Homo sapiens: one gene and its partners. The protein of the gene in region 1 interacts with the protein of each later gene in a biochemical or structural test. Each region holds a gene or a part of one and is shown in the gene's direction. Other genes may lie near its edges. The genes, in order: DSCAM, PSG7, PTPRT and PSG9.

Region 1 (3,567 bases):
ACATGGCAGTATCTTAATGGTTCATTGCAATAGTCAGATGCCATATCAACACATTTTCTGTACTCTGTCATCTTAAAATTCATTGGTCTATCATACCCTTGGAAGGAATGTTTTACCCACACATGATTTTGTAACATAAAAAGTTGATCATTTGGAAATGATTGGTTCACTGTGTTACACAGATCTTCCAAATGTTGATACAATTTGTTATACAATATCAAAATATCACAACTACTAACATTACCATGATCTCATCAGAAAGTCTTCAAGTAAACTGTCAAGTTCATGCTGATGGATGCAAGTTTTCTAAAATTCTATTCTTTCTTGAAAGATTCAATTTTATTATTTATAATAAACACCATCAATTGTAATTGTAGGAGTGATGGGCTCATTTATCTGTAAGAAATTGTTTGACAAATAGAAAAGACCGCATAACCATCGTTTTTAGGTAGCCATTCTTTTAAGAAAGAAATGGAATTCCATGAAGAAAAGCAGCTGGTCGAATTTGCAACTCAAGCAAGCACAGACATACTCTGCTTGAAAATAGCCGTGCTGCTCAGGAGGTGGAGGAAACACTGTGCCTTCTTCCCATTTTATTACACAGGACATAGAACATTAAAAATAACGTGAGCTTTAGGGTAAAGATGTAATAAAACTGTTATGTTTCCTGCTTCGTCAAGTGTCTGTAAGTGAATCTGGCATTTTTAAAAAACCAACTCACAGTATGCATCGGTAAACAGTACAATGAATAGTCATCCTGTTAGTGTCCCTGCTGGGATTCATGGTAACGCCCAGCAGTCTCACCCACCATGGCTTTTGCTCCAACAGTGCAAATGTCAACACCATGAGAAAGGCAAACAGCACCTCAGCATTGTCATGAAAACGATTTTCTTCTTACAGATCACCTAAAATTGTCTCAGGGATCCCTACAGGTCTGTGAGCTACATTTTGAAAACATCTAATACAGTGCTAAAATTTTAGTTTATTTTTAATGTTTGACCATTACAAATGAGGCATCAAATGAACTTCTTTATGCATTGGCCTTTGTCTGATTTTAAGATTATTTCTTTCGAGAAAAATTTCCAGAAGTATGACCATTGGATAAATAGGTATAATACTTTAATGTAATTTTTAGGAGACATAGATTTAAACGAAAGCCCTTTGAATCATTAACATTTATTCTTTAAATTTGCCAGATCAGTATAAATGAATGTATTCATCTTAATCCTTTTGAAGTGACAGAAACCAACTCAAACTAGCTTATGGCCAAAAGAATAATTTATTGTCTCTTATAAACAATATATTTATGATTTTAGGAAATAATTCTATTGAATAATTTTTTCTTCAGGAGCTTCTTTTCTTCTGAATACTTATCATATAGTATAAAACTTGTCAGCTCCTTTGCAAGTACTTGCAAACAAAAGAAGGAAAATATTATTTTATGTGGTATTTTATTGCCTGGAGAGAAATGGCAGTTGTTGGGATTTGGGGCTTGCCAAATTTTTCAGAATAGTCGGGAAAAGCTGCCTGGAAAAAGTGAGATTTTGAGCAAAGATGTGAAGGGGTTCAAGACAGCTCATGGATACCTGGGGAAGGGACATCCTAGGTAAAGGGAAGAGATACAACCACGGTGTCTAGAGTTTGCCTGGCAAGCTTGAGGAATAACAGAGAGGCTGGTGTGGTGGGAGCCAAGTGAACAAGAAAACACTAAAAGGCCCTGAGTCAGAAGGAGCAGAACCTTTTCACGGGGGACTTACTAGATCAGGACTTCGGTTTTCAGGACGTGGGGTTTTCTGCTGAGTGAGATGGGGGCTTTATTGGATGACTTTAAACAGAAAAGTCACATGGCCAGACTAAGGTTTTAAAAGGATGCTTTTAGCCAGGCAAGGTGGGACGAGCCCGTAGTCCCAGATACTCCAGAGGCTGAGACAGGAGAATACTTCCAGTCTAGTAGTTTGAGGTTGTGGTTGTGGTGCACTATATTTGCACCTGTGAATAGACACTGCACTCCAGCCTGGGCAACATAGTGAGACCCCATCTCTAAAAAGAAGAAGGACGCATCTGATTCCTGTGCTGAGAATGGTCTATTCGGGGAAAGGGGGCAAGTAGAATGACCTGTTGGAAAGTGAATCCAGGTGAGAGATGATGGTGGCTTGGACCAGGGGGAGAGCAGAGGAGGTTGGGGGTAGAAGACAGACTCCGGATCTATTTCGAAGGTCTATTCAGTCGGTTTTCCTAGTGGTTGGATACAGGTGTGAGGAAAATAAAGACATCAAGGATCAGGTCAGGCTTCTGGCCTGAATATCAGGAAGAATGGCATTGCTTTCTACTGAGTCAGCAGAAGATGCAGTGGAGCCGTTTGAGGAAGGCGATTAGGAGTCTAGTTATCGATGTGTTGAGGTTGAAATACACACTAAACAAAGAAGTGGATGCTGTCAGTAGGAAATTAGATATGGGAGAGTAGAGTTCAGGAATCCAGGCTGCAGATCTGGTGACATCAGTGAATAGATGATGTTCAACACCAAGGCCTGAACAGGACCCTCAGGGGACTTTGTGCACTACACCGCAGATTTTAACTTCATATGTACAGGCTTCCCCAGCCCCCAGTCAGGCTCACATTAGAACCCTTCACCAAATATCTGAAAATAAAGTCTGACAAAAATTCAAACAAGGACTGTTTGAAATGTAAGTTTACCTATTTTTAGATTTCCCAGATTGGCACAGATCCATGTATTGACTATGACCCCATTGGTTGCAAGGTGCGAGAACCCAAATTACCTTTGCTTAAGCAGCCAGGTGCAGAGGCTCACTGCTGTAATCCCAGCTACTTGGGAGGCCTAGGTGTGATGTGGTACGCACCTGTAGCTCCAGCTACTCCGGAGACTCAGGCAGAAGAATGGCTTGAGGCCAGGAGTGCAAGACTGTGGTGAACTACTTCCAAAACACAGTAACAGTTTTACACCATTCGCAATCTTAGCCTTTACTCAGAACTTAGAAGGGTCTTAAATAAAATGACTTCTGAACATTTAAGTTTACATTTTAAAATATTTTAACCTCAGCACTTTGGGAGACCGAGGCAGGAGGATCACTTGAGGCCAGGAGTTTGAGATCAGCCTGGCCAACGTGGCAAAACCTGGTCTCTACTAAAAATACAAAAATTAGCCAGGCATGGTGGCACACACCTGTAATCCTAGATACTCAGGTGGCTGAGGAGGGAGGATGGCTTGAACCCAGGAGGCGGAGTTTGCAGTGAGCCAAGATAGCACCACTGCACTCCATCCTGGGTGACAGGGAAGACTCTGTCTCAATCAATCAATCGATCGATCAGTAAAATGTTTTTAAATGAAATATTAATATATAAAGTAAATTATACTCCAATGGTCAGGATTGTAGTTTATCAAGGCTTTTTAAAAATTAACCTTTACTATTTTCAGTTACCAAGTATTAGGGGAGGGAGATAAGAAATTAGCTAAATTTTAGGAAAAGACTTAGAATTTTGGCTTTCCCTGTGGATTAGGATTGAAAGAGACTTTCTTATTTTGTTCATGTAAATGCAGCTCCACTACT
Region 2 (4,339 bases), on another chromosome or scaffold:
AGCTCCTCCCCGCACACCTGCTCCTTCCCTGGGCCCAGCTAAAGGCATCTCCCAGGGCAGCTCTGGTGCACGCAACGCCACACTGGGCGCTTTCCCCTCGTGAACTCCCTCCATCCTCATCAACTCTTTCTGTCACTGCTCCCTAAATGCCCACCCCTGCTCCATCTGTCCTGTTCTCTGGGGCTTCGCAGGTGAAGCCTAGAGCTGACACAGATCAGCGGCTGCCTAAGGGCCCACAGCCTCCCCGGGAATCAGCCAGGCACCCTGTGACCTGCCTGCCCGCTGAACCCCTGGTGGCTTAGATCGTGTGTGATGGTCACACACAGGCACCATCTGGGATGTGGCCACCTACCCCCAGCTGTCCCTTGGGAAGACAGTCCTCTCCTGTGTGCTTGCGGGGAAAGGGGGGTGTTATTGCTCTTTGCACACAGAACACAACCCACCCCCACCCACCATCTCAGGCGTGAGCAACGTCCCTGCAGACAGGATCTCTGGCCACTGCCTGTTCCTCCTCTACACACAGCAGCTTGGCCAGGTCAAAACCCTCAGGACAGACCCCTGGGTATGTCGGCACATGGAGGGCTGAGCCCATCATGGCCACGGAGTAAGTCAGGATGAATCTCTCCAGCTCTGAACCCCTGCTCTGTCCCAGGCTCCCCCTCCTGTGTCTCAACGAGCCATGTCCCGCGGGTTTCCTGGGTAACTCTTCACTGCCACCTGCACCACCACAGGGAAGGTGTGGTGACCACAGGACAATCAGCTGGGCACATAAGAGAGGACATCAAAGATGGTCAGGAAGAACACGAGAAATCCTGAGCTCCAGCTCAGCCGCCAGACCCCAGGGAGCCAAAGAGTGACCGAGAACTCTCTCTTTGACTATGGGACTTACAGCCCCCACTGAGCAATCAGCACAGGCCTCTCCTCCCAAGAGGCATGAGAGATTCACCCTGCACACCTCTAGGAAGGACAGTTTCCTCTGGGACACCCAGGTCCTGAACGTCCATCCTTGGAAGCTGCAGCCAAGCTAGATACGATTAGAGAAAGGAAGGGTCCCTCTCACCAGGAAACACACAGTTCACACACAGCACAATGGGGCATCACTGTGACAGGGACCTGGTGCAGCTTCAGCCTCCTGCACTGCAGGGGAGAGCCAGATGGGGATGAAAGAGGCCAAAGGGCGTGAATGTGCACCCCTAACCAGAGCCATGCGGAGAGCAGGAGGCTGAGGCCCAGGACTGCGCTTGCCCAACCTGCAGGGTATGTGTGTGACTCTGTGGGTCTGTGTGTGTCTCTTCTGTGTGTGTGTGTGTGTGTGTATGTGTGTGTGTGTGTGTGTGTGTCTGCACAAAGTGTGTGTTGAGGTTTGGTGAAAGAATCACTGCTGAAAAAGGCAGAGGGCTCCACAATTCCCAGGGACCTGAAACACAGACAAAAGGAAAAACAGAAGGAGGGACAAGGAGGCAGAACTGAGAGAGGAGGGGACAGAGAGGTGTCCTGGGCCTGACCCCACCCATGAGCTTGAGAAGTGCTCCTGCCCCGGGAAGAGGCTCAGTGCAGAAGGAGGAAGGACAGCACAGCTGACAGCCGTGCTCAGGAAGATTCTGGATCCTAGGCTCATCTCCACAGAGGAGAACACGCAGGGAGCAGAGACCATGGGGCCCCTCTCAGCCCCTCCCTGCACACAGCATATAACCTGGAAAGGGCTCCTGCTCACAGGTGAGGAGAGAACTTCCTGGGAGAGGACAGGAAAAGGAAGCAGAGTGACTGGATGGGGTCTCCTAGAGAGGATGGGGTTCTAAAAAATAAAAGAAGCCAGCACTTTGGGAGGCTGAGGTGGGTGGATCAAGAGATCAGGAGTTCAAGATCAGTCTGGCCAACACAATGTAGCCCTGTCTGTACTAAAAATACAAAAAATTAACCAGGTATGGTGGTGTGCTCCTGTAATCCTAGCTACTCAGGAGGCTGAGGCAGGAGAATCACATGAACCCGGGAGGCAGAAGTTGCAGCTAGCCGAGATAGCACCACTGCATGCCAGCCTGGGTGACAGTATGAGACTCCGTCCCAAAAGAAAAAAAGGAAAAAAGAAAAAAAAGGAAAGAAGGCTCTGTTGGAGCCTGGATAGGGGAAAATACACCAGAGAGGGACAGGGGTCAAAATAGGAAAGTCACATTGAACCGGAATTGGTAAGAGGTAGGAAAATCTTAAGTGTTCTGTTTTTCTGATTAATCCTCAGGGGTCACCACATTTTGAAAAATGAAAATAATAACTATATCAGATGACACTTGAAATAAAAATATAAGCAGGGCATGAAACACTGTCCTCAGCAAAAAACCTCAACAATTGGGAGGAAAAAAAACACCCAGGGCATGGAGGCCCCTGAGAACTCTCACATCTACAGGAGTCTGCAGCCTGTTCCAGGCACTGGGGTGCGACCAAGATCACAAAAGTCCCTGTCCTCACGGAGCTCATGCTGTCATGGGGAGGAAGACAGACATGCAAAGAGATCTAGAATGTGAGATCAGGTGTTGACAAGAACCCTGGAGGGAGCAGAGCAGGGAAAGGTCAAAAAGGAAAGACCCAGGTTCTCTGAAGGAGGTGTCAGGAAAGAAGTCTAAGGATGCCCTGATGTGAGCAGAACCTGAGGGCAGTGTGGAGGGGGCCGTGCGGACCCCTGGGGAAGAGGATTCCAAACAGAAAAATGCCAAAGTCAGGAGTGTTGAAGGAATGGGGGTCATGCTGCTGACCTTGACCTAGTAGGACAGTAGGACACACACAGAAACACACATGCCCCTTTTATATGTGTGTGTGTGTGTTTGTGTGTGTGTGTGTGTGTGTGTGTGTGTGTGTGTGTGTGTCTTCAAGGCTGAGGATTGAAGAGACCTTCTCAGGACCCAGGGGCCCATCTTTTCAACCCAACACATAGGTCTCAATATTGACTGATGCTCTCTCCACCTCCTAGCATCACTTTTAAACTTCTGGAACCCGCCCACCACAGCCCAAGTCACGATTGAAGCCCAGCCACCAAAAGTTTCCGAGGGGAAGGATGTTCTTCTACTTGTCCACAATTTGCCCCAGAATCTTACTGGCTACATCTGGTACAAAGGACAAATCAGGGACCTCTACCATTATGTTACATCATATATAGTAGACGGTCAAATAATTAAATATGGGCCTGCATACAGTGGACGAGAAACAGTATATTCCAATGCATCCCTGCTGATCCAGAATGTCACCCAGGAAGACACAGGATCCTACACTTTACACATCATAAAGCGAGGTGATGGGACTGGAGGAGTAACTGGACGTTTCACCTTCACCTTATACCGTGAGTGATTCCACATGGTCCCTGGGTGTTGGGGGGCAGGGGTCATTTCTACTTCACACACACAGAATTGTCAGGCCTGGACTGTGCCTGTGTCCCTCTCTGCATTATGTCCCATGCTGGGGTTTGGGCATTTATTGCAGGAAACACACAGAGGAGACAAATTTCAACAGATCAGAATTCCTTTCTCACATCCAGACCCTGCAGAAACTTGCTGCAGAGGAAGGACAGTCTGATGGGGGGACTCAGCAGGAGGAGATCAGTCTCAGCCAAGCACCTCATGCCCTCTTCATAAATTTGACCCTGAGAAAGACCCTGGAAAACTGAGTAGGGCTTGGCCTGAGGGGCCCCCTGAGACCCTCAGAGAAGCTCAGCCCTAGAAGCCTCAACCCCAGACCCCTGTCCCTAAATCCTTGCTCCAGATAAAGCTGAGGAGCCTGTGCCAGGACTGGGTTATGGTTTCTTGGGCAGGGCTTACTGGGACTAAGAATTTTCCAGCTGTCTGAGGACTGTGTCTCCTGCAGCTGTTCACCAGCCAGGGCTCAGCCCTCAGAGCCTCATCTGGGCAAGGACAGAGCTTTCTTCACCTGACACTCAGAGTGGAGAGGACAGAAAGACAAGCTTTGTAGGCCATCAGCCAACTGCCTTAGGAGGCCTAGGACACTCCATAGAAAGTCTAATATCCCCAGAAGCAGAAACAGAAGAGAGAAGATGTACCAGGTAGCAGCTTGTCCACAGGGATCTGACGTAAAGGTGCTTTCTCATGGAAGCAAATTAATAATAAATGCTGTTTGGTGAACATTTCCACAGTGCTACGCATTAGGTCAGGTGACTGTGAATAATTTAACATTTATTCACAGATAGCATGAAAAGCCACAGTCCATTTGCCATTTAGCTTATTTGATTGAGAGAAAACTGAGTCACAGGAAAGCACAGTCACTGAGCCAGAGTCACACAAACACAAAGGGGAGATCAGGGTCACATGAGGTCTGTCTGCAGCCACAGGCCCATCCTCTC
Region 3 (3,567 bases), on another chromosome or scaffold:
GAGTTTCAGGAGGAGAGTACAGCAGGTACAAAGAATTGAGATAGGAGAAGATATGACACGTTTTGGGAGCAGATCGTGAGACAAAGATTTGCCGGCAAATAATTTGCTTGGAAGGTAATCCCAAGACACAGTGGCTGGTGAATGGGAAAGTGAGGCAGAGCAGGGAAGGAAACAAACAAAGGCTACTTTAACAAGTTGTTAAACACTGTAGACAACTGGAACCCAATTCTGCTGGCGAACTCTGAGACACATGCGTGTCCAAGTGATTCCACCTAAAGGGAGAGATTTCTTAGATTTCTATCCTCAACTCTCCATCTGTCATTGCTTGAGGGTTCCTTTCCACACAGCCCAAGTATCCCCTCTGCCTTCAGCAGACAATCACAGGTGTTTGCAGCAAGCAGCCTTCCTCAGGTAAAGGTGAAAGCTGAGGGGACATGGGCTGGACACCAAGAGCGCCTGCTGACAGCATGTCTAGAAGTTTCTCATTTTATCATGACTATGCTATTACATCTTCTATCAGAAACAAGACCCACCATAGCTCAGGTGATCATTAGGAAACATGGAAATTTGGCCCTTTGGGTTACAGTATAAAAAGTAAGGATCCTGTAATATATTGATAAATCATGTCTATTCTTCATAGCCACAACACTAAATGTGGACAGCTAATTCCCAGGCCACTGTTCTTACCTGGCACCCCATTCCCTCTCTTCTGACTTTGCAGGAGCAATATGTGTTTGTGCACGATGCCATCCTGGAAGCGTGCCTCTGTGGCAACACTGCCATCCCTGTGTGTGAGTTCCGTTCTCTCTACTACAATATCAGCAGGCTGGACCCCCAGACAAACTCCAGCCAAATCAAAGATGAATTTCAGGTATGAGCAAATCCCAGGCTCGGTGACCATCTTAGTCAGTTTGGGTTGTTATAACAAATTTCCATAGATTGGGTGGTTTAAATGACAGACACTTATTCATTACATTTCTGGAGGCTGAGAAGCCCAGCATCAAGCTTCCAGTAAATCCAGTGTCTGGGGAGGGCTCACTTCCTGACTTGCAGATAGCCGTCTTCTCGTTGCATATTCACGTGGTGGAAAGTAGAAGCAGCAAGCTCTCACATTTCTTCTTTTTTTTACTTTTTATAGAGATAGGATCTCACTATGTTGCCCAGGATGGTCTTCAACTCCTGGGCTCAAGGAATCCTCCCACCTTGGTCTCCCAAATTGCTGGGATTACAGGCAGGAGCCACCACACCTGGCCCTACATGTTTCTTCTTATAAGAGCACTAATCCCGTTCATGAGGGTTCTATGCTCATGATCGAAACGTCTTCCAAAGTCCCAACCTCCTAATACCATCACATTGGGGGCTAAGATTACGACATGGATTTTGGGAGGGATGAAAACATTTAGTCCGTAACAGTAACCCAACCAACTTCAGTGGCTATGTGCACATTTGTGGGGTTTTCTTTGGGACAACTGATCTATGCACTTTCAGTGTCTGCTTCTCTAGGAAGCTGCAGAATCTATTCCAGAACACAAAATGCACAGCCATGAGCAACTACACACTCACTCAGGGATTGCTGGTACTTGTCTTTAACTGTGAATATGTTTTTTAACTGAGGTCTTATTCAGTTCTAGTCCAAGTTGTGAATGGAGACAAATTTATACAAACAGGTGTGAATTTCATGCTCCTTCATCCCTGGAGGGACTCAGGTCCTCTCAGTAATTTTTCAGTAGACTCTTACTGCTAAAAGTGTGGTCTGCAGCCTGACCAACATGGTGAAACCCTGTCTCTACTAAAAATACAAAACAAGTGAGCCAGGCATGGTGGCATGCACCTGTAATCCCAGCTACTCAGGAGGCTGAGGCAGGAGACTTGCTTGAACCTGGGAGGCGGAGGTTGCAGTGAGCCGAGATTGTGCCACTGCACTCCAGCCTGGGCAACAGAGTGAGACTCCATCTCAAAAACATAAAAAATAAAATAAATAAAATTTTAAAACCTGCAGTCTGGAGACCAGCAGCATTGGCTTCACCTGGGAACTTGTTATAAATGCAGAATCTCGGACCTGGCCCAGACATAGTGAATGAGAGCCTGCAAGTTAACAAGATCTCTGAGTGATTTGTATGCATGTTAAACTTTGAGAAGTACTGTCCTAGAACATAGCTCAGGTATACCAGATCCACACCTGGAAGCCCATGCGGTCAGAGCTGTGGCAACATTGATTGGTCTAGGGAGCCTGGACATGAATCACTAAGTAAGATAAAGCCAGAGTCCAGCCCTTTATCCCAAGACCAGTGTCAGAATTACACCTGGGCAACAGGAGCTGAGAACCAGGTATGAGAAAGCAAGGAAGCTCCAGGTCTTGCTTCAAGTCAGTGGGCAAATGCCAGGCCCATTGTTCCACGGGCAGATATCCCAGGCAGGCCAATACCTTAGCAATCCCTAAAACAAATAGCCATTATTGATCTGAAGTAGAGACAGAGAGCTGAATGAGGGAAGGATGGAGGGTACAGAACACTGGTCATTGCACGTAACATCTAGTCCATTGGCTAGAGCAGTTCAGCTCTGGCCTCAAACTTGCAAGATGTACTCGGCAAAGTCCAAACACAGCAATTTCCCAGACCTGTTAGGGTTTGCCCCTCGGAGGTCTCTCATCTATCCTGAGCAGGTCATCTAGGCATCCTTCCATACTCAGACAGCTTTCTCTCTGAGAAGAGGGCTGGTAAATCATTTCCCCCATTCCATGACAACGCAAGTGATGTTTAGCCCTCAGTAGGGATTCCCTACCCCCACCCCTCTGTATGCCCTCCTGGCTGGCCCACCCTTTAAAGCAGCACTGGCTGAGCTGAACGACTTAGTTCATCTGGTTGGCAGGTACTATGAGGCTGTGTCTGAGCCTGTGTGTGGATGCGCTGCTTCTGCAGCCTTGGCGTTTTGAAGGTGTCACACAGCTCACACACCCTATAGCAGGGAGCAGGAGAGGACAGAACATCACCGTGGAAGAGAAATGGGTCCCGGGAAAGGGAGAGTGGGGCTGCGCTTAGAGGGTGGAAATAGGCGAGTTAGGCTGAGTTGGAACATTACTGTCTCTTTTGCTCAGGGGCAGCCAAATGAGCAGGGCCTATCTATTCACCTTTGTGCCCCACAGACCCTCAACATTGTGACACCCCGTGTGCGGCCCGAGGACTGCAGCATTGGGCTCCTGCCCCGGAACCATGATAAGAATCGAAGTATGGACGTGCTGCCTCTGGACCGCTGCCTGCCCTTCCTTATCTCAGTGGACGGAGAATCCAGCAATTACATCAACGCAGCACTGATGGATGTAAGCCGAGCCCGGGCAGAAAGCTCCTAGCTGGCATTCTAGGGCAAATATTCTTCCTGAGGTGGAGGTGGCTGGACCTCAGGGCCCTGACCCCACCAGCCAGCCCCCCCTGCTTCTGATCTACTAGTCCCAAGGACCTTTGTTCCCCTGCAGGCTCTGGTCCAAACCTAGACACAAGGTGGGCTCTTGGCTCCTTTTCTCATACAAAGAGCCTGGAAAGAATAGACCAGAAGCGTAAGGTGGCTCCCGTG
Region 4 (3,567 bases), on another chromosome or scaffold:
TAGAATGTCCAATGAGAGAAAGTATCTGCAAGACTTCTTCCCAAATATTGGTCTAATATCCACCAAACGCATATGGTCCTTGAGGGCCAGACTTCCATCATCTGTTCATGTTCACCCTTTCCACCAGTCAGTTCTGCATTTGCAAACATCCACATGTATTTCTAGAAAGATCCACATGGTCCTCACCTGCCCTCTACAGGGGGAAGGGAGCATCATGGACCCAGAACAGGGAACATGGTCTTGGTCGAAAGCTATCAGCTACTGCCTGGCCCCTTCACTCTTTGTAGGTCATTCCTTGGACTCTGCTCTATCGTTAGAGGTCACTGGCTCAAGTCAGTCACTATGAGACACCTGGGAAAACTGCAAACTGCCCCACCTTGTGGCTCCACTGCCTGATGTCTTAACTGACCTCCCGGCTTGACTCTGGTCTCCCCTGTGTTATTTCTGCTGAAGTACCCAGTCCCAGACCAGGCTTTCCAATACCCAAAGGGTTTAAGGACAATGGGAAGTTCCATCACCCATCTCTAGGATGTCCTTGGCAAGGGAAGCTGCAGAGAAAACATACCTCAGGGGGCAAAGTAAGACTGAAACTAAGAGGATTCCAGCACTGCATGCTCCAAGTGAGGACCACAAGTTGGGCCAGTCAGGCAGTTGGAGACGGAGGGACTCAAAGAGGCATCAGGGGCTGTGACTGCTGGTCCTGTGTCTTTCCATGACCCAATGCTGCTGCTCAATTCACACTTAAGAAAGTCTGTGCTTCTCCCACATAAAGCAGGCAGCCTCACAATCTCTGAGCTCTCAGATTGCCATGCATCTGTCTTGTAACACACACACCTGCCATGGGCTTTTAAGGACTGGGTTGGGCTGAGAGGTGGGAAATGCCAACTCTGACTGAAAAATGCCTTTGGAGGAATCAAAGGTGCCACACAGGGCAATCTTCTCTCTGTTTTCTGCACAGTGGAGACTCCCAAGCCCTACATCTCCAGCAGCAACTTAAACCCCAGGGAGGCCATGGAGGCTGTGCGCTTAATCTGTGATCCTGAGACTCTGGACGCAAGCTACCTATGGTGGATGAATGGTCAGAGCCTCCCTGTGACTCACAGGTTGCAGCTGTCCAAAACCAACAGGACCCTCTATCTATTTGGTGTCACAAAGTATATTGCAGGACCCTATGAATGTGAAATACGGAACCCAGTGAGTGCCAGTCGCAGTGACCCAGTCACCCTGAATCTCCTCCGTGAGTATCTTCTGTTCCTCTGTGAGCCAGGCTGCCATCCCAAATACACATGGCCAGAGGCCAGGCCTCTCAGTCCCTCTCAGGTCCAAGTACAGAGACCTTTACCCCTAGACATCAAAGCTGGCCATGACTTTCTGCCCCAAGCAAACCAGAGTAGGCCTAGGCTTGATCAACAATGGGAGAAAAGAGGCTGCTGTGTCATGGGAGACTCTGGGTCCACAGCTTGTGATGGGAGAAACAGGTGAATGTCTCAGGCTCCAGATCAGTGAACACAGCAGGGATTTGGCTGGGACTTCAGTGTTGCGACTTGGCTCACAGGGTCACTGTGGCCCTTCCACAGACCAGGATTTTCCCTTCCCTCTGACAATATCGCTTGTGACATTATTCTCTTTGCTCCACATGGCCTGGATGCACCCACCATTTCTTCCTCATACATCTATTACCATACAGGGGAATTCCCCAATCTCTCCTGCCTCACAGACTCTCACCCACTGGCAGAGCATTCTTGGCTGATTGATGGGAAGTTCCAGCACTCAGCACAAGTGTTCTTTATCCCCCAAATCACTAAAACATATAGAGGGTCTATGTCTGTTTCATCCATAACTCAGCCACTGGTGGAACAAATCTCATAATCAAGAGGATCATAGTCCCTGGTAAGTGGGTCCCTGGAGCACTGGCACTATGTTTTCCAGTGAAGTCTATCTAGCTGTCAGGGAACAGCCACCTGCCCTCTGCAAAGGGAGAGGGAAAATAAAAAACCCTGGATAGGGAATATGTTTCTGCTCCAAAACCACCAGCTTTTGCCTGTCCCTTCACTCTTTCTAGATCATTCTTTAGACTATACACTAACAATGAACAATCTGAAAGGAAGTTAAGGAAAGGATTTCAATTCACATTAACATCAAAAGGAATAAAATATTTTGGAATAAGTTTAACCAAAAAGGTCAAATGATTATACCCTGAAAACTACAAAACATTGCTGAAAGAAATTAAAGATGATATCAATATATGGAAAGACATTTCATTTTCATGGATTGGAAGAATCAATATTGTTAGAAAGACAATACTACCCAATTGAGTTGCAGATTCAATGCAACCCCTACCAGAATCCCAGTAACATTTTTTGCAGAATTAGAAAACTCTGTCCTAAATCTGACCTGACAGGATCTTATTAATGACTGCCACAACACAAACACTGAGAAAAAGATGCAACCAGAAAAGGTGGAAAGTTCTGATGACAAAGAAAATAGCAATCAGCCTTTCTCACATCCCAAAGCTTTAAAAAATATATGAGTGCAGCATGGCCAGTATGGAATTGACCAAAAACTAATCATCAAGCTAGAAAAGTGGTGAGAGAAAAAAAAAGGGCAAGAATATCTTTGGCTTATCACCTCCCACTTTTGCCTACTAATCTGATGCTGAAAAGAAATGCTCACTGAAGCATTTTAGATTTTGAATCTTTCAGATTTGGGATGCTAAACCAGTAAGTATATGACAAATATTTCAGAATAAAAAAATGTCAGAAATCCAAAACACTTTTTGTCCTAAGACTTATGCATAAGAAATACTCAATCTGTGTGAACTATAGGCATCAAGCTCTACAGCAGATCTCTAGAACCTCCCCACCTTGCATAACTGAAACTGCACACCCATGAACAATTTCTGATTCTCCCCACTCCCAGCTCCTGGCAACCAGCAGTCTCTTCTCATATTCACTCTGGAATCCACTTACATGAGGTCCCTAGAGTAGTCGAACCCAGGGGATCAGAGAGTAGAATGTCCAATGAAAGAAAATATTTGCAAAACTTCTCTCCAAGTTTGTCTCATATCCATCAAACACACATGGTCCATGAGGACCAGATTTCCAGCAGTTCATTCCCACACTTTCCACCAGTCAGTTCTGCATTTGCAAATGTCCACATGTATTTCTGGAAAGATCCACATGGTCCTCCTCTGCCCTCTGCAGAAGGAGAGGAAACTTAAAGAACCCAGGACAGAGAACATGGTTCTGCTCCAAAGCCACCAGCTCTTGCCTGTCGCCTTCACTCTTTCTAGATCATTCCTTGCACTCTGCTCTATGTTTAGAGGTCACTGGTTCAAGTAAGTCATCATGAAACACCTGCAAAAAACTGCCCCACCTTGAGCCTCCACTGCCTGATGACTGAACTGACCTCCAGGCTTGACTCTGGTCTCCTCTGTGTTATTTCTGCTGAAACATCCAGTCCCAGGCCAGGCTGCTAAGTATCTTCAGGGTCTCAGGACAATGGGAAGTCCCATTATTACTCATCTCTAGAACATCCTTAGAAATGGAAGCTGCAGAGAAATCACAT

The links.
Region 2: the proteins of DSCAM (region 1) and PSG7 interact in a biophysical measurement, tested with the Homo sapiens proteins (one large-scale study listed by IntAct).
Region 3: the proteins of DSCAM (region 1) and PTPRT interact in a biophysical measurement, tested with the Homo sapiens proteins (one large-scale study listed by IntAct).
Region 4: the proteins of DSCAM (region 1) and PSG9 interact in a biophysical measurement, tested with the Homo sapiens proteins (one large-scale study listed by IntAct).

Annotation. Positions count from the first base shown.
Region 1 is NC_000021.9:40,333,123-40,336,689, reverse strand, and holds part of DSCAM (cell adhesion molecule DSCAM isoform CHD2-42 precursor), read left to right. Parts: intron 1-3,567. UniProt on the Homo sapiens protein: Cell adhesion molecule that plays a role in neuronal self-avoidance. Promotes repulsion between specific neuronal processes of either the same cell or the same subtype of cells.
Region 2 is NC_000019.10:42,934,390-42,938,728, reverse strand, and holds the start of PSG7 (pregnancy-specific beta-1-glycoprotein 7 isoform 1 precursor), read left to right. Parts: upstream 1-1,521; 5' UTR 1,522-1,652; coding exon 1,653-1,716; intron 1,717-2,959; coding exon 2,960-3,325; intron 3,326-4,339.
Region 3 is NC_000020.11:42,101,873-42,105,439, reverse strand, and holds part of PTPRT (receptor-type tyrosine-protein phosphatase T isoform 2 precursor), read left to right. Parts: intron 1-721; coding exon 722-871; intron 872-3,142; coding exon 3,143-3,316; intron 3,317-3,567. UniProt on the Homo sapiens protein: May be involved in both signal transduction and cellular adhesion in the CNS.
Region 4 is NC_000019.10:43,259,530-43,263,096, reverse strand, and holds part of PSG9 (pregnancy-specific beta-1-glycoprotein 9 isoform 1 precursor), read left to right. Parts: intron 1-958; coding exon 959-1,237; intron 1,238-3,567. UniProt on the Homo sapiens protein: Binds to the small latent transforming growth factor-beta complex, consisting of the N-terminal TGFB1 latency-associated peptide (LAP) and the mature form of TGFB1, thereby leading to the activation of TGFB1.